Homo sapiens: one gene and its partners. The gene in region 4 interacts genetically with the main gene of each other region. Each region holds a gene or a part of one and is shown on either strand. Other genes may lie near its edges.

Region 1 (3,623 bases), on a different chromosome or scaffold from region 4:
GTTTACAAATTAATTTCCCCCTCTAAATAGGCTGTTATAAGAGTGGACCCTTCTGCTTGCCTAGCCTAGGCCCACCTGTCACTGGGACTTCCTAACCAGTGGTCACACTGTATTGATCTTTTTAATCCCCTCTCTTTGAAACACAGAGCCAGCTGATGTGGAGTTCCTCAAAAGAAAGACTCTCCCACTGCCCCTACCTCAACAGGTAGCTGCGGATCCGGGGCTAATTCCCTACTAAAAAGTCTTAATTGGCTTATGGGGAGCCTGAAAGATCTCCCTTGTGTTTACAAGGTGAAAGGAATGATAGATCCCAAATGCCCTAGTCTGTCTTTATCCATTTCTTGGTGGAAATCAGGTGCGTTTTATTTTTTAATTGTTTTTGAAACAGGAACAGAGGCTTTGGAGGTGAGTGGGATAGTGTTTCACTTTAGTGGTTGAGCCAGCAGGGAAAAGCAAGAAAAGCCCCAGAGACACTAATATTAGGCAAGAAACTTGGCGACTTATTTTTAGTTTTTATTTACATGAAGCGTCTGCAGTACAAAAATGTAAACTTTGATAGCTCATAATAGAATAAACTCTTTATGTACAAAAATACATTTTCATATGAATGAAGCATCTTGAATAAATTAAAGTACTCTCCAGCCCTGTGCCTGAATAGCTAAGCAAGAGTCTCCAGTTCTTCCTAGAGCGAGTCTGCAGTGGTGGGGGTCGGGATCCATAATGCATGAAGCCCACTCCTTGTCTCTGCTTTTTAAGCCTTTTCATTGTATTGTCAGCCGGCTCAAACCGAATTTTCATGCTCGTTTTTCTTCATTAGAGTTCTACAAATTGTAAAATTGACTTTTCACCTCGTCTTCAGGGGCTGATCTGTCCCTTTTCTAAATCACACTGAAGTGGTGGCTGGGGTCAGTTCTGAGCCAGTCACAAAGGAGGTTTTGTGGAGTTCAGAAAGTGCAAAAGGAAAGGCCGTCTAGGGGCGGGCAGGAGGGGCGCTGGGCTGAGGGCCGGAGAAACAGACCAAGAGACATCCGCCGCGAGGGTGCGGCGACCTAACAAGCGGCTCAGGTATCCCCGACTGCTTTAAAGCTCCCGCTTCCTCCCTCCGCCTGGAGAGGGGGTCCCGAGGCGGCAGCTGGGGCCCCATCTATTGCCTGCTGACTAGGGGAGGGGGAAAGTAACAGTGTCTACAAAGGGCCTAGTGGTAAGGAATGAAACAGGGCGTTGTGTGGAGCAAGTCTTTGGGCAGGCTTGGGAAGGAGAAAACAGGGTCGCCGGGGCGGTAGGTGAAGTCTTCGGAGGCGGCTGGGCTACTGGGGTCAGAGAGCGGGGAGGCGGCGGCGGCACCTGAGCCCCAGGACTCCGCGTCGCTGGCGGGGCTTGGGGGACCGGGCAGGCAGGGGACGCACTGCGGCGGCAGGAGGCGCTCCCGGGCACCGCCTCCGGGCAGCCCTTGATCCGCCAGGCGCAGTGTCTCGGCCAGAGCCCAGATGTAGTTGTAGGCGAAGCGCAGCGTCTCGATTTTGGTGAGCTTGGTGTCGTCGGGGAACGAGGGCAGCACGCTGCGCAGTGCGTCCAGGGCCGCGTTCAAGTTGTGCATGCGGTTGCGCTCGCGATCGTTGGCCTTGACGCGCCGGCTCCTGCGCAGCGAGTGCAGCAGCGCCTCGGAGCGGACCCGCGTCCGGCCGCGGCGCCGCCGCCTCTCCTGCTCGTCGTCCTGTGCCCCTGGAACCTCAGACGCCCGGGAGATATTGGGCGCGCCCCTGCGGGCCGGCGCGGGCGGCCCCGAAGCGGAGGCTGCCTGTTGGAGTCTGGCACAGTCTTCCTCGTCGGTGAGGAAGCCGGATAGGTCACTGCCGCTGCTGCTGGCGCAGTCGAGGTCGGAGATGCAGGTCTCAAGGCGGGCTGGCATCGTTGCGCTGTGCAGGACCGACGGACAGATAGAAAGGCGCTCAGAGCGCTGCAGCCCGGACTGAGGGCAGAGCCGCCAGGGCGCACTTACGTTCCCAACAGCCTGGGGTTGTTACTCTGTGCCAGTTGCGGGTGCGAGAGCCTGGAAGGGTGCAGGGGCGCACGGAGAACTTGGCCTGGCCTCCTCGCCTCGCCTGCAGGGGCCACGCGCCCGGCCGGTCTCCTGAGTGATGTCGCCGGCGATCAGATCAGCTCGTGTGAGCACCGAGTGTGGCACACGACTGGCCTCAGGACCCCTTAAGTACCCGGCGCAACAATGGGCGCCCCCCTCCCTTGCCACCTCCGCCCCCGCGGCAGCCCGGGTGAATGGAGCGAGGCGGCAGGTCATCCCCGTGCAGCGCCCGGGTATTTGCATAATTTATGCTCGCGGGAGGCCGCCATCGCCCCTCCCCCAACCCGGAGTGTGCCCGTAATTACCGCCGGCCAATCGGCGGCGTCGCGCGGCCCCGGGAGTCGGCTCGGGCTAAGCTGGCCAGGGCGTCTCCAGGCAGTGAAACAGAGGCGGGGTCGGCGGGCGATTAGCGGCCGAGGCACGCTCCTCTTGGGGCGGGCTGGGCGCCCCTCGCTGGGGTGGGACGGGGAGGCGGGGCGCGAGCGCGAAAGTGTGAGCCGCCCAGTGAGTTGCGGAAACCTGGAGGGTACTTGGAGTTTGGGTTCGCATCCCCTCTCCAGCTGCTTAGTGGTCGCGTGACTTTGGACGAGTAATTTAACTTCCCTGAGCATTGCTTTCCCCACCTGTAAGATGAGACAAAAGTTTACCCTGTGGAGGATGATCAGATATAATGTTTGTGGAACACTAAATGTGCAGCATCCGCTGAACAGGGTGAAAATCATTTTCAAATAGACTGGAGAGTGGCCATGCCAGAGGCACAGGGCGCAGGGCAAGGATAAGTGTCGCTGCTCCGTTCAGGCTGATGAAGAAACGGGAAAGAATCTGACCTTCATCTGGGGAGTGCGAAGAGGAGAGTGGAAAAGAGGATCGGGTGATTTCCCAGGTTGCCTTGAGTCTTGGTCTCACCCTTCCCTTCTTTCCCTTCCCTTCTCCACCCTCCTCCGCACCTCTGCCCACAAGTCACCTCAAGATTCTTAATAAGAATTAATAATATGAGAATTTATATAAATAATAATATGAGAATATAATTATTAATATGAGAATTTCCTTTTCTTTGGCGTTCCTGAAACCTTGCCTGCCCCATGCCCGGAGAAATCCGTTGCACACCGTCTCTTGGAGCCCTGCTTGCAGCCTCTGTGGCCCTCTTCAGGGTGAGCCAGCCAGGGGATCCAGCTCCCCTGGCCCGAGAGAGAGCTGGCCCCTGGAGGGCAGCAGGTGACAGTGGAACCCCTTTCCTCCAAACCCCCTCCCGCCTTCGGTGTCTTAAACTCGCCTATTCCAGCAGGTCTTCCCTCTGCATGTCAGGAGTTACTTTTCTCTTGTCACCTACACTCACCCAGGAGCCACAGGGGCCCAGACATCACCCAACTTTGTACTTGGAGGATAAATAGTAAGGAACAGCACTCGATTATAGGATGAGGGTATTAAAAACAAAATGAGCAGCTTTCAGCAAAGTGCCTGCCCCCCACCTGATATCCAAGTGGTAGCCTCAGGCCGGATGCCTGGCCTGCTGCCATGGGAGCCTAGCTGACTCTTTGGGTTG
Region 2 (3,500 bases), on a different chromosome or scaffold from region 4:
CAGAGGCACAAGAATGTAGGGCCTTCCTTTGATCACCATACTCTCAGTCAATCCAAGACTGCCTGATATTCTTACCCTAGACAACAAGCCAACCCTTTTAAGGAAAAGATCTTACTCCAGAACTCAGAAACTTGGAGCATATATGAAAAAGGAGACTCAGAAGATGACCAAGTAATATACGGAACTAGGCTGCAAAGAAAGGCATCTCTTGGGGAGATTATTCTGCCACCTTCTTCTTCATTCATTCTGCTTACACTAACTATATCCTTTCATCCACTTCTAAGTGTGAAAACATGAAACAGCACGATTCAGGAACGTGTTCCTATAGATCGGAGACCTTGTTTCTGCCCAACAGTTCAGTAAGGACAGCTGGCCTGTCCTCCCATCAGCATTGCCACCTATGTCCTCACAAAAGCTGTACTCCATCCTTCCTATTCCTTAGAACCACCACCAAAGCTACTTACACTACCCTTAGCCATTCTTCACATATGAAGTTCAGGGAGAAAGCAATTAGTTACTTGGCACATCACTTTTGAAATGTGGATGACCTCTGTTCAAAGAATGCTTTTCTTTTGCTCTGCCCTCAGTAGAGATTAGACATTATAGAACCTGCCTACAGGAACATGATTAGCCTAAACTTGCTCACCAACCATGACAGAATCAGATATGTTTTCCTCTAACAAAGCTTTCTCATGAGAGAATGCCAAACTCGAGCACTTGACAAAGCAGAGGTGGACTCTGTCCAGCCAAAGTCTCAGCTTAGAATTAAGGTTCTTCCAAAGACCTGGGGCCTAATCTCATCACAATATTTTTTCCCCACAGTTAAAATCATCATACTTCATTATTTCCCAAATCTTACCAGTACCTCCTTGATGCCTTCTTTTTTCCATATCTCTTTATGAAAGCATAGAGTTTGGCATACCCTAAATCATCGGCTAGCCTAAGCAAAGATCTACTGTTAACTATTTCCAAAAAGCCCCTCTGGAGAATCGGTAGAGTACTAGCTGCTCTTCTTGAGAAAGTAAGGTAAGGCTGGACGTGGTGGCTCACGCCTGTAATCCCAGCACTTTGGGAGGCCAAGGCAGGTGGATCACGAAGTCAGGAGTTCGAGACCAGCCTGGCCAACATGGTGAAACCCTGTCTCTACTAAAAATATAAAAATTAGCCGGGCGTGGTGGCATGTGCCTGTAATCCCAGCTATTCGGGAGGCTGAGACAGGAGAACTGCTTGAACCCGGGAGACAGAGGTTACAATGAGCCAAGATCGTGCCACTGCACTCCAGCCTGGGTGACAGAGTAAGACTCTGTCTCCAAAAAGAAAAAAAAAAAAAAAGAAAAAGAAAAGGTAAGGTTAAAAGCCAAACACTGAACCTAGAACAGCATCAGATTAGTATTATCTTATTACCATGACATTACAGAGCATCTAAGAAGCAGAGGAAACTCAAGCAAAGGAAAAGGATGGATATCAGAAGACATGAGACGCACCAAAAGTCAGGCACACAAATATCACACTTTTCACCCCCATAAACTACACTGTCCCAGGGTCATTCATACATAAGAATCATCAGTCCAACAAGAGGCTTTCTCAACATATATGACGAATAAATTATTTCAAGGAGACTACAAGTCAACAGGAAATATTCGGTCCTGGTCACAGGATCTAGAGGGGTGTGGACCACAACCCTTCCATTTAGCTCTGAACAATGTGACCAGGTAAGGCTGCACAAGGTGATACCCACAGGAAGTGAACAGTCAGTGAACCTGGGAGATGTGTTCCCACTAGATGGCTTAAGGCAGAAACACAGTACCTTATCTAAAAACAGGGAAGACAGCTGGGCGTGGTGGCTTACGTTTGTAATCCTAGCACTTTGAGAGGCCGAGGCAAGTGGATCACCTGAGGTCAGGAGTTCGAGACCAGCCTGGCCAACATGGCAAAATCCCATCTCTACTAAAAATACAAAAAATTAGCCAGGTGTGGTGGTGGGTGCCTGTATCCCAGCTACTCAGGAGGCTGAGGCACGAGAATCACTTGAACCTGGGAGGCAGAGGTTGCAGTGAGCTGAGATTGTGCCATTGCACTCCAGCCTGGGTAACAAGAGCCAAACTCCAGCTCAAAAATAAAAAAGAAAAAAAATAAGGCCAGGTACGGTGGCTCACACCTGTAATCCCAGCATTTGGGAGGCTGAGGCGGGTGGATCACCTGAGGCCAGGAGTTTGAGACCAGCCTGGCCAACATGGTGAAACCCCATCTCTAATAAAAATACAAAACATTAGCCGGGTGTGGTGGCACATGCCTGTAATCCCAGCTACTTGGGAGGCTGAGGCAGGAGAATCACTTGAACCTGGGAGGCGGAGGTTACAGTAAGCTGAGATTGTGCCATTGCACTCCAGCCTGGGTAACAAGAGCAAAATTCCATCTCAAAAAATATTAAAAATAAGGCCAGAGGTGGTGGCTCATGCCTGTAATGTCAGCACTTTGGGAAGCCGAGATGGGTGAATCATTTGAGGTCAGGAGTTCGAGACCAGCCTGGCCAACATGGTGTAACACTGTCTCTACTAAAAATACAAAAAATGCCGGGCATGGTGGCGGGAGCCTGTAATCACAGCTACTCTGGAGGCTGAGGCAGGAGAATTGCTTGAATCTGGGAGGCGGAGGTTGCAGTGAGCCGAGATTGTGCCACTGCACTCCAGCCTGGGCAACAGAGCGAGACTGTCTCAAAAAATAAATAAATAAATAAATAATAAAATAAGTAAAATAAAATAAAAAAACAGGGAAGGGGCCGGGCGTGGTGGCTGAAGCCTGTAATCCCAGCATTTTGGGAGGCCAAGGCTGGTGGATCATTTGAGGTCAGCAGTTCTTCAAGACCTTCCTGGCCACTGGTAAAACCCCATCTCTACTAAAAATACAAACAGTGGCCAGGTGTGGTGGCTCACGCCTGTAATCTCAGCATTTTGGGAGTCCGAGGTGGGTGGATCACTTGAGGTTGGGAGTTCAAGACCAGCCTGACCAACATGGAGAAACCCCATCTCTACTAAAGATACAAAATTAGCAGGGTATGGTGGTGCATGCCTGTAATCCCAGTTATTCGGGAGGCTGAGGCAGGAGAATCACTTGAACCCAGGAGATGGAGGTTGTGGTGAGCCGAGATCGTGCCACTGCACTACAGCCTGGGCAACAAGAGTAAAACTCTGTCTCAAAAAAAAAAAAAAAAAAAAATACAGGCCAGGCACGGTAGCTCACGCCTATAATCCCAGCACTTTGGGAGGCTGAGGCGGGCAGATCACAAGGTCAGGAGTTCAAGACCAGCCTGGCCAAGATGGTGAAACCCCCATCTCTACTAAAAAGACAAAAAAATTAGCTGGTGTGGTGGTGGATGCCTGTAATCCTAGCTACTCAGGAGGCTGAGGCAGAGAACTGCTTGAACCTGGAAGGTGGAGGTTGCAGCCAAGAGGGTGCCACTGCACTCCAGCCTGGGCGACAGAGAGAGACTCTATCTCAAA
Region 3 (3,500 bases), on a different chromosome or scaffold from region 4:
AGGGGGCCAGGGCTCTGGGGTGCTGTAGAGGCAAATGGGGTGGGGTCAGGGCAGGTACTGGGTAAGGTCAGGGTTGTGCCTTCCCTCCACCCACTGGGGCCTCACCGGCTCTGTGGGCTCTGGGGACTGTGATGGGGGTGGTGGAGGCAGTGGCTGGGCTCCGGGGCGCCGCCTGGCAGCCATCTTGGAGTCACAGCCTCCCTTGCGGCGGGCATGTTTACCCTGGGAAAGATCAGAAAGGGTGGTTTCAGCTTGGTGGCACCAGGCAGACACAGAAACTCCCCACACCCTAAGTGCAGAAAGCATGCATGGGACAGGCAGACAGAGGGTGGCGTGAGGCACTCACAGTTGGGGGAGCCACAGCCAGGGGAGTGCGTCGCTGACATCTCTGATGACGGCGACGCAGGCGGTGAGCAAGGTGCTGGCAGACAGAGGCAGGTAGGCGGGGCCAGAAAGGCGAGCATAGGGTTAGGCAGAAAAGAAAGACATGAGGTAGGCAAGGCCAGGTTGAAAGGAAGCAGAGGCAGCGACGATTTTAACAGCAGAATGAGCTCTGCTCCCTCCAGCCCAACTCACCCGTAGGCAACGTCGCTGGACACATTTCCACTGGCGCCTGAGACCAGGGCGGGGAGGGCGAAGGCAGATGGGGCAATGGCCACAATCCTCTTGGGTCTGACAGCCCCGGCATACTCCACACCCTCGGCTCTGTTGGCGGGGGGCAGGTGGGAGCAGAGGCATGAAGCATGGGGCCAAGCCCATGGGGGCCAGGGGCCGAGGTGAGCCTTGGGCTCTTTCCACTTGCCCAACTCACCCTTTCCACAATCCGGAGGCAGCGTCTCCGTTCACACTTGCAGAACAGCCCCGATGCCACATCATGGGGCAGCTGCAGGAGGCAGGTGGAGCAGGCCCCACAGTCTTCTGTTACCTGGCAGGCTGCACACTCCCCACAGCCCACACGCTGCCAGGAATGGTAGGGACGAGATCACGGGCCTGCTCCAGAAGCACTGGTCCTCCCATGTCTACTGACCCTACATCAGCTGGCATCACCATGAATTTTAGTCCCCCATTAGCCTCATCACCGTATCTGAGAAGGTCTGGTTAGTCACCATCACTGAGGCCATTAGTATGTCTACTGGTCCCCTGTTCACTTCATCACTGTGTCTACTGATGCACTAATGGTAATGGGGATTAATTACCCCATTAATTCCCATTATTGTGTCTGCTGACCTATGGAGAGCACCCTATAAAATGACTCTTCATCCTGTGGACCCATCATCATCCCTTCAGACTCTACCAGCTCCATCACATCCTGCTCCCACTGCAGAGTTGTGAAGAGGAAGCAGGTTGTGCTTACCTTAAACATTCTCTGTTCCCGGTTGAAGGCAATTCTCTGTGCTGTGGGGAGGAAGAGGGAAGAAGAAAAGTGGAAAGGAAGCAACAGACATCTGACTTCACTCACTGCCTGTGCCCTGACTTCCACTATTCAACCTCTACCTATGCCTGCTATCTCCAATATCCAACCTCCAACCATGCCAGTAGCCTCTGTCCTGACATCCACATTCAAACCCCAGCCTAGCATGACACTGGACCTGCTCCAGCTCCTATCTCCCGATGCCCCATCCTCTGGAGGCCACTCACCTCGACAGTCTTTGCACAACGTTTTGAGCCGCTGCCTTTGGGTGCCATCCCCTGAGAAGCTGATTCCACAGTTCTCACAGCACCTGGGATGGGAAAGGCAGGTGTGGGGCTCCAAGAGCACCCCCAATCACAACCCTCACCCATCTGGCTCACCTTAGACCAACACTCACCCAGGAGCAGGGAATGAAGCTGGGGCTGTGTCAGTGTCAGCCTTGGTCTCATCCCTCGGGGCCTCCTTCCTGACCTCACCACTCTGGGGTCCAACCTGACGTTTCCGAGTCTTGGCTGGCCTTGAAGGCTTCTTTCGCTTCTTGCTGGCAACCGCCACGGGATGGGCCTGGAAAGTAAGGGAAGGAGGAATATGGGTCAGTGGTTGGGTGTTGGGTGGCACATCCACCCCTACCTAGGTATCTCATGTTGTGAAGTACCTTGGGGGCTGGATAGCACAAGATGCCTTGTTTGAAGTCGAAGAGGGTGAGATCACACGCAGGGCCCAGGTATCGAGTCAGCTCAACTTTGCTTCGGATCCTGTCTCCTGTGGGGCTAGGGATGGGCCATGATGGGTTAGCACCCAGGTGGAGCCAATGCCATTTCACTCATACAACCTTTTGACAGGGCTGGCAGGATATAGGAGGCAGCCTGGAATTGGCTTGTGAGCCCTGCCCAGCCCCCACCTCAACTAACCTTGAAAACATAAAAAAATTAATATAAATACCAACACATATAGAAACATTAGAAACAATATAAATGTAAACAGATGAACATATTTACAACATATAATACTAGTAATACTGGAACTATTTCATGTAAGTAAAAATAAACACAAATAGGAACACAAATATATTATATTTGTGTTATATATATATAACACAAATATAACATATAAATGTTAGCATTATGTACCAAGTATATATCAAGTAAAGAAAACACAAATATGTTTTAAAAACATATAAACAAATGCAACTACATACAAATTAAAGTATAAGTAATTGATTTTGGGACCCCCATGGGTTTCTTGCATTTTTGTATGCCCTGCAAGAGAGACAACGATTGTCCTTTTTGATAAACTATCTTTCCAAGGATGTTTGTAAAGCAAACAACCTTGGAAGATAAGAGATAGGGTCTCCTTCCATAGGAGGAAGGGAAAGTATACTTTTTCCAAAGGGAAAGCATACTTACTGTCTTAATATTATTTAAAAAAAACCTGATTCTCTAAGCTCACGGTTCTTTTCCTATAATAATACAACCCTCTTCACGTCATGCTGTAGGAATTGGGATTCAGAAACTGGCACAAAAATAGTAATACAGTAATTCCCCCTCTCGTGCAGGGGATACATCCCAAGTTCCCCAGTGGATGCCTGAAACCGTGGATAGTACCAAACCCTAATGTAATATGTACTGTGTTTTTTCTATCTGATAACTGAGATGGTTACTGTGTGACTAACAGGCAGGTTGTGTCTAGAACATGGATATGGATACGGATATGGACAAAGAGATGATTCACCTCTTGAGCAGGACTGAGCGGGATGGTGTGAGATTTCATCACGCTACTCAAAACGGCACACAATTCAAAACTAATGAATTGTTTATTTCTAAAATTTTCCATTTAATATTTTTGGATGGTGGTTGACTGTAGGTAACTAAAGCTGTGGAAAATGAAATTGCAGATAAGGGGGAGACTACTGTATTCTGGATCCTGCAACTGTTGTAATAAACTGTCTTTGATCTGTAACCCAGGAGTCTTACCCCTCCTACCAGCATCTACAAAATTCTGACAAATTCACTATTATCTTGTCCTAAGAATGAAATCTCAGGTTCTTTATAGTTCTTGACAACTGCACTTTTAAGTTTTGAAAGTTTTA
Region 4 (3,500 bases):
TCCACAGGTTGACGAAAGGGAAGGGATTCTGGATCCTGACGGTAAAGTGCCTCCAAAGTTGGCATCAGTGCCTGTCGTAGTTCTTCTGGTTTGAAAACTTAAAAAAAAAAAGTGCATTTGAAATTAGTTACCAATTAAGCAGAAGAACTTTAAAAAATCATTCAGCCTGAAGCTCTAAAAGCATCTCAAGAATCAATAACAAAATTAACCACTCTGTCCCCATGGAAATATCACTACAGGCTCAATCACTGATTCTAGATTCTAAGCCCCGCTTTGTTTCAGACAGCTCCTAAAAAACATTGTGTCTTATCACCTTAAAACACTCTTCACCCTCAGCTTAACTTTTCAGTCACAAAGTCAGTGAAGACAGACTCGGTCAATTAGAAGCAGAATCCAAAGGCTTCTAAAAATTTATGAAGAGACTTTGCCAAATAAGAGTCCATGGGACCAGGCACGGTGGAGGCTGAGGTGGGCAGATCACTTTGAGGTCAGAAGTTTCAGCCTGGCCAACATGGTGAAACCTCGTCTCTACTAAAAATATAAAAAATTAGTCGGACATGGTGGCATGCTAGTCTCAGCTACTCAGGAGGCTTGAGGCAAGAGAACTGCTTGAACTCGGGAGGCAGATGTTGCAGTGAGCCGAGATGGCGCCACTGCACTCCAGCCTAGGCAACAGAATGAGGCCCCATCTCAAAAAAAAAAAAAAAAAAAAAAAGAGTGCACAAGATACTCGTGTTAAGAGGGAGATGCAGTCAAGCAAGAACAGAAAAGTCTTTCTTCATGACATCAGTATTTAACAAGTCAGAAACTAGACTAGATCAGGTATTGTCTTATACTACAAGGAGTCAGGGGCACAGAAGAGAAGACTCCTTCGTTCAAATGCTTGGTATTTTAGAGCCAAAGAAAAAGAGACATGTACTATTTTAATGACAAATGTTAGGTTTAAGTTTAAAAGAAGAGAGAACAAAAATGGTATTGCTAAAATAATAGACTTAGTTGATCAAATTAAGTTCAAATGTGTTCTCAATGATATTTCCCAAAAAGTCCGGAAAAATTTGTTGGTGTGTCCCAAATGGAATCAAACAGTTCTTTGAGAAGCCAGTGATTTAAAAAGCTTTCAATTTCAGCAAGGGCCTTATTTTTTCTTAATTGGCAAAAAAAATTTCATCATCGGTAGAGTATATTTGTTACTTCAGATAATTTTCACCTCTGGGGGGTTGCCATGGAGTGGGGGGAAACCAGACTACGAAGATGCTTGTCACTCATATTTAGCTGTGCTAAAAATAAGGACTATTTGAATAAACTTGTGAAATTAGACATTTTATTTTATTTATTTGTTTGAGACAATTACTCTCTGTCACTCAGGCTGGAGTGCAGTGGCGCCATCTTGGCTCACTGCAACCTCCTTCCATCTCCCGGGTTCAAGTGATTCTTCTGCCTCAGCCTCCCAAGTAGATGGGACTACGGGTGAGAGCCACCACACCCGGCTAACTTTTGTACTTTTAGTAGAGACAGAGTTTCACCATATTGGCCAGGCTGGTCTTGAACTCCTGACCTCAAGTGATCTGCCCGCTCGGCCTCCCAAAGCGGTGGGATTACAGGCATGAGGGAACACACATTTTAAAGAGAGATTGCCAATAGTAAGACTGGGTTTGTTACAGCCCATATTAAAACACCTCAATATATACAAGTCTTATTTTTAAAATGAAAATAATTTTTTAATCCCAACATTTTACAACACATTGTATTAATGGAACACTTTTCAATATATATCATCTGTAAGAGCCAGCAGACTCACTCCTCAGGTATGTCCTACCTGGTGCCTTTTGCAGATCACTAGAGCCACAAAAGTTCTAGTCCTAAAATAGTCAATTAACACTTGTTGGAATGGCTGGATTTGAGCACTCTGCCTCAGACTGCCTGGGTCTGCTTCCTGGCCCAGGCAGTAGGGTCAGCTGAGTAACCTGTGGAAAGTTACTTAACTTTGCTAAGCTTCAGGCCAATAACCTCAGAGCTGTTGTGAAATTATTAAATGAGGCCGGGTGTGGTAGCTCATGCCTGTAATCCCAGCACTTTGGGAGCTCGAAGCGGGTGGATCACCAGGTCAAGAGATCGAGACCATCCTGGCCAACACGGTGAAATCCTGTCTCTACTAAAAATACAAAAATTAGACGGGCATGGTGGCATGCGCATGCAGTCCCAGATACTCGGGAGGCTGAGGCAGGAGAATCGCTTGAACCTGGGAGGTGGAGGTTGCAGTGAGCTCAGATCCCGCCACTGCACTCCAGCCTGAACAACAAAAGTGAGAATCCGATTCCAAACAAAAAAGAAAAGAAAAAGAAAGAAAGAAATTATTAAATGAGACAATGTGGATACTTAGCACACAGCAGGTGAATGACAAATGCTATTACTATTGCTATTCTTTCCTGCATTTTAGTCAAGGCTATTTACAAACATTTCTCTCTCCTGAAAAATGAGACAATTTTTAGGGTGTACTAACACAGGGAACCCTGAAGAAATGAGGGGAATGACTTAACTCATTGGTTGCTGCAAGTGAATATTAAAAAAAAAAAAAAGAAAGAAAAATTATTAGTAACAATGAAGAGACCAGGCCCAGGGCTTCCAGGTTAATGAAATCACAATAATGGCAACTTCTGAGGCCCAAGAGGCATGACCGCAATTCTGCCCTGGGTCTTTGGTTTCTTCAGCTACCTCCAGAACGAATGGCTTCAGAGACTCACTCTTTTTCTTTGACTGTCCTGGAGCCGGAGATGACTGGGTAGCTGAAGTACTTGGCTGGTCTTCCTCCTCTTTTATTTCAGTTTTTAACTCAGTGCTTCTCTCTTCTGTTTCGGTAGATTCCATTTTACAGTCTTCCACTTTAGACTAAAAGAAAACGTAAGAATTTTTAGTATTCCAAAGATATCTAGTTGGGAATCAGTAATCTGAACACCCTTTCTCATGCAAAATCTATGCCATGAGATCTAATTATCAAAATATTTTTCTGCAATATTTTTTAAAACTTGGGTTCCTATACTGAGGTCCTAACCAAATCAAACAGTAATTGCCCTACTCTCACCTCTGAAATATCCTCCGGCTGAGTATCTGCTGGTTCTGGTTGATCCACTTCCATTTTGGCCTCCATCTTCACTTCCTGGGAAGGCTGCTTCTCAGCAATGGCCTGAGAATTCACTTCTGTGCTACTAGTAGATGGAGGATTTGATACCTGTCCTTCAATGCTTACAGCTGGCTGGGAAAGCTGGGCAGAAAAAAAAGGGAAGTAGGTGAGACACACGCAGAGTCTGCCAACGATACAATCAGAATGTAAGGTAAGCAACAGGATAGCAGAATTAGCCACCTATTTCTTGGCTTATATTTATTCATGGTGCTTTCATTTGCTCTGCCCATTTCACCTCCCTTAATTATGCTTAAGAACAGGAGAATTAAGACTTGTAAATACTGGTTGGCTGATTGTACATCAAAGAACCAGCAACTATTTC

The links.
Region 1: of EP300 (region 4) and NEUROG1, changing one enhances a phenotype caused by changing the other (phenotypic enhancement), as found in Homo sapiens cells (one study listed by BioGRID).
Region 2: changes in EP300 (region 4) and SEC24C together harm fitness less than expected from each alone (positive genetic interaction), as found in Homo sapiens cells (one large-scale study listed by BioGRID).
Region 3: changes in EP300 (region 4) and MBD1 together harm fitness more than expected from each alone (negative genetic interaction), as found in Homo sapiens cells (one large-scale study listed by BioGRID).

The regions. Positions count from the first base shown.
Region 1 is NC_000005.10:135,533,782-135,537,404, forward strand, and holds NEUROG1 (neurogenin-1), read right to left. Parts: upstream 2,184-3,623; 5' UTR 1,910-2,183; coding exon 1,196-1,909; 3' UTR 501-1,195; downstream 1-500. UniProt on the Homo sapiens protein: Acts as a transcriptional regulator. Involved in the initiation of neuronal differentiation. Activates transcription by binding to the E box (5'-CANNTG-3').
Region 2 is NC_000010.11:73,747,372-73,750,871, reverse strand, and holds part of SEC24C (protein transport protein Sec24C), read right to left. Parts: intron 1-3,500. UniProt on the Homo sapiens protein: Component of the coat protein complex II (COPII) which promotes the formation of transport vesicles from the endoplasmic reticulum (ER).
Region 3 is NC_000018.10:50,275,024-50,278,523, forward strand, and holds part of MBD1 (methyl-CpG-binding domain protein 1), read right to left. Parts: intron 2,182-3,500; coding exon 2,067-2,181; intron 1,976-2,066; coding exon 1,809-1,975; intron 1,722-1,808; coding exon 1,639-1,721; intron 1,396-1,638; coding exon 1,355-1,395; intron 959-1,354; coding exon 812-958; intron 706-811; coding exon 577-705; intron 422-576; coding exon of another isoform or gene 347-421; intron 223-346; coding exon 106-222; intron 23-105; coding exon 1-22. UniProt on the Homo sapiens protein: Transcriptional repressor that binds CpG islands in promoters where the DNA is methylated at position 5 of cytosine within CpG dinucleotides. Binding is abolished by the presence of 7-mG that is produced by DNA damage by methylmethanesulfonate (MMS).
Region 4 is NC_000022.11:41,151,592-41,155,091, reverse strand, and holds part of EP300 (histone acetyltransferase p300), read right to left. Parts: intron 3,260-3,500; coding exon 3,080-3,259; intron 2,887-3,079; coding exon 2,742-2,886; intron 98-2,741; coding exon 1-97. UniProt on the Homo sapiens protein: Functions as a histone acetyltransferase and regulates transcription via chromatin remodeling. Acetylates all four core histones in nucleosomes. Histone acetylation gives an epigenetic tag for transcriptional activation.